Regions from separate parts of the Homo sapiens genome. Here regions 1 and 2 are each linked to region 3. The links come from fine-mapping of genetic effects on gene expression. A gene starts in region 3. Each other region holds a variant in brackets. All regions are shown on one strand. Distances are between the middles of the regions.

What was found. PIP is the estimated chance that this variant, and not a neighbour inherited with it, causes the effect.
Region 1: its variant is the best candidate, but not a certain one, in a credible set for the expression of PLAU in whole blood (INTERVAL, PIP 0.74).
Region 2: its variant is the best candidate, but not a certain one, in a credible set for the expression of PLAU in thyroid (GTEx, PIP 0.86).

Annotation. Positions count from the first base shown.
Region 1 is chr10:73,872,267-73,875,110 of GRCh38, reverse strand. CAMK2G (calcium/calmodulin dependent protein kinase II gamma) reads left to right here and starts at 556. Exons shown (of 23, transcript NM_001367534.1): 1 at 556-714; 2 at 2,028-2,122. The coding sequence starts at 650. RefSeq lists silencers at 164-443, 454-613, 674-843, 1,104-1,163. The variant G/A (reference allele first, on the strand shown) is at 1,450.
Region 2 is chr10:74,011,199-74,013,698 of GRCh38, reverse strand. All of the region lies in intron 1 of VCL (vinculin), which reads right to left. Among named protein-coding and RNA genes, the nearest start is that of VCL, 14 kb to the right of the region's middle. The variant G/A (reference allele first, on the strand shown) is at 1,516.
Region 3 is chr10:73,909,515-73,912,358 of GRCh38, reverse strand. It overlaps PLAU (plasminogen activator, urokinase), which reads right to left and starts at 1,227. Exons shown (of 11, transcript NM_002658.6): 1 at 1,141-1,227; 2 at 747-834; 3 at 291-318; 4 at 37-144. The coding sequence starts at 803. C10orf55 (chromosome 10 putative open reading frame 55) reads left to right here. Exons shown (of 5, transcript NR_160938.1): 4 at 75-159; 5 at 264-2,390. RefSeq lists a silencer at 681-1,280 and enhancers at 2,246-2,844, 2,552-2,844.

The sequences.
Region 1 (2,844 bases), 37 kb after region 3:
ATAATGGCCCTGGTGCTTGCGCAAGTCTAGACTGTCAGCTCCCAGAGGGAAGGCGGCTGGCAGCTGGCTCTGCGCAGGCTGGGGGCGCCTCCCGGGCGTGCAGCCTGGCACAGGCTCCTTGACCTTGGCTCTCTCCCCACGTGCTAGGAGCCCGGTTGGGGGCTCGGGACCCGCGTGTAGGACCCGTCCAGAGAGGTCAGTGGTCCAGACTCCTACACTCCTAACACATGCACCCTCGCATGCACGTTCCCGAGCCCGCGCGGGGTCCGCCCCGGGACAAGCCCATAAGTCGCGAACCTTCCAGCTCCGTCTGCCCAGACAGGTGGCCCGGAGCGGGGACCCCCTCCCCTCGGCTGCCCCGCGCGCCTGGCCCAGCGAGGGCGGCTCCGGGGCGGGGCGGGGCCGGCGGCGGGAGGCCCCTCCCCGGGGGCGGGCCGGGGGCCGGGCGGGGGGGGGGACTGGCGGGGCCTGGGGGCGGGGCGGGGCGGGCGGCGCGGGGGTGTCCCTCCCTCCCTCGCTCTCCCCGGTAAAGTCTCGCGGTGCTGCCGGGCTCAGCCCCGTCTCCTCCTCTTGCTCCCTCGGCCGGGCGGCGGTGACTGTGCACCGACGTCGGCGCGGGCTGCACCGCCGCGTCCGCCCGCCCGCCAGCATGGCCACCACCGCCACCTGCACCCGTTTCACCGACGACTACCAGCTCTTCGAGGAGCTTGGCAAGTACGGCCCGCCCGCCGCGGTCCCCTGCCTGCCCTGCCGCCCGGGAGCTATGCGGCTTCTCGCCCCGCCCCCCGGCCCTGCACCGGCCGCTGCGGCTCCCCCTCGGCCGCCCCACCCCCGCCTTTCCCGCCCGCCGCCTTCGGTCCCCGCGCCCCCCGCGCACTGCCCCGCATCCCCCTCCGCGCCCTGCAGCAACTGGCGGGGCCGCTGCTCCCCACGCGCCGCCGCGGACACCGCAGACCCCGGACCGCTCCCGGGTGCCCTCCAGCCCCGCCCCTCCGCACCCTTCAGGCGCCCCCCTCCCGACCACCTCCCAACGCTGCCCGGTTGCTCACTCCGCACCCTGAACCCAGGTCCCACGCGCCTCGCACTCAGGACCCTCCCCAGCCCTGCAGCCCTAGCTCTGCTGCGGAGCCCGGGCGTGGGGGGGCTGTTTGGCGCCCGGCCCCGCCCCCCGCGGGTGCCGCTCCAGGCTCCCAGCCCCGCGGCTGGGCAGTGCTGCGGCACCCCCGTCCCCTCCCCCCACCCCTGCAGTGGTCCCGGGAGCCGCGCCGCAGCCTCAGCATCCCCCTCCCCTCCGCACTGAGCTGGCCGCTGCAGCAGCCCCGGCCCCCCACCCCCACCCGCGGCGCCGAGCCCGGCCACTGCAGCCCCCGCCCCGCCCGCCCCCCCAGACGTTTCCAGAGCTCAGAGTGCGAGCTCCCGTTTGACGGGGACGTCAAGGAAAATAGCATG[G/A]GAAGGGGAGTTCTTGATGTCTGACTGTGTCCTCTCTTCCCTTGCTGTCAGTTGAGCCGGGATGCAGTGAGATGAAACCGGCTGTGGGGGGGTTTGAGCCTCACTTTGCCCCATGGTTGAGGGAGATTTCTCTTTCAGGGGATGATACCCTCTTTTTAATCTTTCCTTCCCCGACCTTCAACTGTTCCTGCTGAGAGAAGGGCAGGGTCTCTCTGCTCCCTTCTGCCCTGGTTCTCTTGGCCGGGACCGCAGGGCTGTCTGAGATGCAGCAGGTGTGTGTTTTCAGCATCGCCCACCCGCTCCTGATGTGCAGCCTGAGGTGGAGGCTGTTGCCTTGCCCAGGGACTGGATGAGGGGGTGGGAGCGCGGCACGCCACCCACATCTGTTCAGTGTCCTGCGGTGGCCGCGTCCTTTTGCCTCATGTTGGATGGTGGTGGTCACAGCGCCGGTGTGTGTGCATGTACGTGAGTGTGACTAGAGGTCTGGTGGTGGGAGCATCATCGTCCCCAGACTTGAAGTGTGTCTGTGTCACTCTGCCCTGCTCCGTGTCCCAGTTCTTTTCCCCTTCTCCCTCCAGGGGTGCTTTCTCTGTGGTCCGCAGGTGTGTGAAGAAAACCTCCACGCAGGAGTACGCAGCAAAAATCATCAATACCAAGAAGTTGTCTGCCCGGGGTGAGTGTTCCCTGTCTTGACCTCTTCCTGAGGGTGCCTCCAGGGGCCATGGTTTCTTTTGAGGAAGCCCCAGGAATTGGGGGTTGTGCGTTTTAGCACTTGGAGAGGAGTTGGAATTTCAGACTGGTTGGACTTTGTGTCAGGCTGAAGCCAGAAAAGGAGTTGCATGGGGGACTGGAAGCGCCCAGGTACAAAAGAATGAAGGAAGAGATGCAAGTAGCTGCAGTGGCCCCCAAAGGCTCAAGGGAGTTCGGTCTTCAGGGAGGTGGAGGATATGGGGGTAGTGGGTGGTACAGAATGGGGAGCTCTTAATTTGGGGCATTTGGAGCCTCTCCCTTTGGGGCAGTGGTGGCTACTGCAGGCCTTTCCTGGTCCCTGTGCCCCAGTGGTGACTTAGGATGGAAATGCAGTAAGTGAGCAGCTCTGACAAAGCCAGCCTCCCCTGCCCACCAGGCGGCAGAACAGACTCCCAAGGGAAGGGAATCTGTAAACATCAGGGGAGGCTGCTACTGGCGAGGGCTTCTCAGGAACAAATTCTGCCAGATGAACTTGATTGCTTTTTTGATCAAATTACAAAGTTGGTGGTGCAGCAGCAGATGTAGTCTGTCCTGGGTGGAGGGTGATGCCTCATGGTCTAGAAATCCCAAAGGCCCGGTTTGGGCAGGAACTGCACTGCCTCCGAGTCTGAGGAGCATAAAGGCCAAGGCCTTGGGGCCTCACTT
Region 2 (2,500 bases), 100 kb before region 3:
ATCAAGAGAAATGGAGATTAAATAACTTCCCCAATGTTACCTATCTCGAAGGTGTCAACAATGGGATTTTAAAATAAGGAGTTTAATGCTTAACGATTATACTACTGTACTGCTTCCCAAAATTTTTATCATGTGCTGATTATCATATGCTGATTTATCTAGTATCTATATCTAAAGTGTGACTTTGGTATTTGCTAACTCATACTACCACATTTTGCCAAAGATGGCTATTCTGCTCATTTGCAAAAGATCAAAACTAATAGAGAATTCTACATCCATGTTTATTTTTTTATTCACACTTACATATTCTGTATAATCCTGTGCTGGGCTGTGCAGGATTATCCCCATCTGCACCCCAGGACTCTGTGCCTAAATTTTTTTCACTCAGAGAACACAAATTAGATGGTCCTTTTGCATGCAATGCCCTGTGTTAAGCAATTATTTACAGCTACTTTCCTAATTGGCAGTTAAATTTCACCAAGATTCAACCACAGCCTGATATATATTTCTCCAAAGAAGCTTAAAACAGTTTTTGATCGCAGCAGAAAATGGCCTTCCTATTTGTTTATTGAACAAATACTTTACTCCACAAGGCAAGATCCTACTATATGCCAAGCACTATGATGGATACTAAAAATTCAGAGACAAACACAGCAGAGCCAATATTTGCCCCTGAGGCTCTGGTGGGGAGATATGTTAAACAGTGAATAATCACACAAATAATTAATTACAATTGTGATAAGCATAATAAGGAAAAAATATAGAAAGTACATGATAGAAGGGCCTAACCTAGCTTAGAGGTAGTCAGGGAAAGTGTCCCTGAAAAATGGACATTTACTATGAAAACTGAGAATTAGTAGAAATTATCCAAGTAAAGAACTACAGAAGAGTACATCAGGCAGAAGGAAGGCCAACAGGAAGCACTGTACTTTGGAGGAAACAAAAACCCAGTGAGTTTGGGCAGCCACAAGCAGAAAGCAGCTGAGGCCAATGCTCAAAGGTCTCTTCCTAACTAGGTGGCCCACCATCTCCTCACTCCTCTCATACCATACCAGTCTCGATCTGCTGCTGGCCTACTGTGTGTGTGTCACTCTTCCCCCACGTCCCTACCACTTCACATCTTCTCCATGACTCCAAAGAAGAAAAACCACTGTATTTGTAGTAGTTAACACACAACTCTTTAAGAAGAATAATATAAATTCTGCAACAATTATATTGGTGGAGAGGATGTGAATAAATCTTTTTTATAAGATTATTGATTTCATCTGTGTTTTAGGCAACTTGAGGCCAGAGACCATATCTTATATATCCCAACACCTAGCAATGTGCATAGCTGGAGTTTGACAAGTAACTTTACTATTTGGGGAGAATTGTAGAATGAGAAATTTAAGTGTTGCTGATCTACATTTTTTCTTATGAGATTTACTAGCCTATTCATATACCCTTATCTATTTTAATTGCAAGAATAAAAACATGTTATCCACCTGGTAGATAAAAGATGAGCCAGTTCTCCAG[G/A]GATGGAGAGAGGACAAAGAGAAGGCTGGAAACACAAGAAAGCTATATAACAAAGGTCCCTCAACTCTCAACTCTAACAACTGTGCCATTTCTTTCTTCACAGAAAGCTTACTCATGGGAATAACTTAAGCTTATTTCAAAAGAAGGAATGACTTTGACTTGGATGGTGGCCAGCTGTGGTAAGAAGTGCAGTGAAATTCAGCCACTTTCCCCTTAAAAGTCATTCAACTGGAAATTTTATCAGTGGGAAATTCTCTAAGGGCCAAAGACTCTATTTTCTGCAGCTTAACAACATTTGTAAAACATTTCGAGTTCTAAGATTCACCACCTCTCTCCTCTATACACACACCCCACACTTATGCCAATCCAGTGTGCTAACTTCTGATAGAAGTGACATGGAATTTTTTGGAATCTAAAAGTTCAAAATATGTACCCAACACAATATAATATCGTTTATGAATCTTTGTTTCTCTTTGAGACTGTATAAATATTTGGTACATAGCAACATTTGAGGGCAGGAAAAGAGAAACATCATGCCTTCCAGTGGAGGCAAGAGATAATCAGCTATCCTTATTATCATAAAATAACCTAAAATGACTAGCTGGTATATTAAATATCAGAACATAACACACTTAATTGAAGAACTACCATGAGCAGGGGACTATGGTAAACACAGAACCAATAATATGAAGAATAAAACCCACTCCTTGCCCTTCAGAAACCAACAGTCTAAAGGGAGACACCCTAGGAGAGTAGGGAGGAGAGGGGGAAGAAAATTCGATATGAAATCCATCATCCAAGGACTGATGATCCAGTATATGAGGACATAAAATCTACATTTACCAAGGGACTTGAAAGAAGGCAGTGAGTTCCCCATTTCCTACGTCTAATTATACAAGTTCCTTTTTACCTAACACTCTATCCCACTCTACCTCTTTGCATACATGCAATGCACATACTTAATTTAATCAATGGTTATTTGATC
Region 3 (2,844 bases):
AAATTTCTCTCCCAGTTGCAGTGGAGATCCCCATACCTATTTCACAGTGCTGCCCTCCGAATTTCTTTGGGCAGTTGCACCAGTGAATGTTGGAGAAGTACTTGTTGGACACACATGTTCCTCCATTTAGACAGTCACAGTTCGCTGGAGAGAACAAAGGTGGGGTAAGCGAGGGGGAGTGGAAGTGGTAAGGGGTGGCGCAGCCCTGCAGCAGAGGGCAGGGAGGGGATGTCCCCTGAAGCCTTCCCAACTTGTCTGTGCAGCCAACTGTTGTAGGGGTGGATACTCACATGGAACTTGATGAAGTTCATTGCTGCCCTGGAAGAGATTCGGGAGGAGGCTTCATCAAAGGTCCCATGCTCCAGGGACTCCAGGGTGAGGGTAAACTGGCCCCAATCCCAAAACCCACTCTTCCCTCTCCCTCTCGCCTCACCCTGTTCGTATCTAGTTCTCAAATGGAAGACCATGGGTTTCCAGCCAGGAGAAATGGATTGACCCAAGCAAGCTTCATCTACCAGATGCCCGCAGGCTGGGGCAGTCCCGGCGGCCTCTTCCTCCCTTGCCAGCCAGTGCCAACCCCCGTGGTTCTCAAGCCTCCGCTGCCACCCTGTCCCATTTCCTGGGGAGAGTCTGGCCCTGCTGTGGATGGAATCCGGAGGACCCCAGCTCCCTGAGCAGCCCCTCCTCTCCCCTGGTGCTGATCAGAGGTCCTTGGGCAGCATCAGTCAAAGCAAGAGCGCACTCACTTTGGAGTCGCTCACGACCAGGACGCAGAGAAGCAGGCGCGCCAGCAGGGCTCTCATGGTGGCGAGGTCGGGGCGCTAGACGGCGGCTCTGCAAAGGAAGGAGAAGTCAGGGCAAGAGGCGGAGGAACGGGAAGGCAGGCCAGGCGGGCGACTGCAGCGCAGGGGAGATGCCCGCGGTGACCAGGCTCCCCAGCTGTCTCTCTCCTCTCTGGGCTCCGGACTCCGGGCAGCCTGGATCGGCACCCGCGGGGGACGCCCGGGACGGGGCGCCTTGACTCCGTGCAGCCGCCGGGGAGCCCAGGGAGCCCGGGCAGCCCAGGGCGGGGGAGGCAGACGCTCGGGAGCTGGGGCCGCCGCGCATCCGGCCCGGGGATCTCAGGACCGCGGCACTCACCGGTGGCTGCGGCAGGAGGGCGCGAGCCGGCGCTGCGGGGACAGGTGGACCCTGGCCCGGGCTCCGGGGCTGCGGTCTCCGCACTGTGCTGCGACCCGCGGCGCCTGCTCTATATCAGGGCCCGCCCCGGCGCCGCCCCTCCCTCTCCCGCCCGGCTCCCTCCCCTGTCTTGCAGCGCTCAGCGACCCGGACCCCGCGTGCTTCCGCAACGCTCACAAAGATTTGGGGGAAGCGCGATCTCCAGCGGAGGGGACCCAACAGCGTCTGGACTGAGGAATCGAGAGGCTTGTAAATTCTCCGTGCTTCCTCCCATGCACCTGGCCGGGGGCCTGCCCCAGTGCAAGGAGTCCCCGAATTGCAGAGAGGAGAGAAGGCGCACAGGAGACTCTCTACCTCGCCCAGCTCTGAAGCCTCCTGGGGTCCTCTAATCAGTTCTTCTGCAACTTCTCCCCGCTGGGCCCCAACTTGCCTAAGACTGCCTCAGACCCCCTTGCCCGCAGCTGATGGAGCTGTGAAGTCTTCATCAACGCGACAAATGTACGAGACATACTCTCCCAGAAGCACAGACAGAAAAACCCCTGCCTGTAGGGGCTCCCTCTGTGCGTCTGTTCAGTGGCAGTCCCCAGATATCACCAACACAACCAGTGGATGGAACAAAGCCGGGCTTATTGCTTTCGGCAGTAAGGGGGTTTGTTTGATGGTGCTATCAGAGGGGGAAAGGCAAGGCCAGATTACTGAAAATTTGCAGCTTGGTTTAAAGTCCGTTTTTGACAGGGCTTGATAAGGATTGGGTTAGGTGTCGTGATATGATGTTACAGGATTGTGGGAACAAAGTCCTAGGGCATAAACTGTTGGTGCTTCCTATTGAAGTGTTAACGGGTCTTTTGGGAAGTTTCCATAATGAGCAATTCATTTATTTGTGCAGGCAAGAATAAAAGTAAAGACAATGGAAACATGTAGACAGTTCTAACTGTGGAGGTTCTGGAGGGTGTGGAAGTTCTGTTCTCACCTCTGAGTAGAGGAATTGGGAGACTGGAGGACAAAATAAGAGGAAGATTTATTTTTCACTGTTTGTCCTTTTACACTCTTAACATTTTAAAAAGCACATCTCTGTATAGCCCATTCCAAAAAGATAATTATGCATTTTTTAATGCATGTGTATTTAGTGTTTTACTTCATCATAGAGCCTTGTTTATTCTATTCAGATAGAAACAATTGTTTATCAAATAAAATTGTCCTCCAGAAAAACAGACCATGTGTAAATGACTGCATCCACCCTTCCTGCCTGAGGATAAGCAGACATTTGTGTATACACACACACACACACACGCATCTCTGGGCACACTTGGAGGAACATAGCAGGGATTCTGTGATTCTGTCACCCCCATCTCTTTCCCCTAGTGTCAGGAACCAGGGCTTGGGGTCATTTTGAACCCAGTAGGACTCGCTCTCTTAGTGGGAAGGAGGAGGCTGAGTCCCAGCAATCCACTAGCGGCTTTGGGCCCTTTCCCAGCCTAGGCCTGCAGCATTTTCCTGCCTTGCAAATCTGGACCTTGGGTCTGGGTCCACCTGAGAGTGACAGAAGGAAGGCAGGGAGAGTGCCAGGAAGGTAGGAAGGAGGAAGGCTCCTTTGCTCTGCCCCAGCCGAGGGCTCAGGGTGCCAGCTGCCTGCTGGGGAAAGTACAAGTTAGCCTTTCAGCTTTT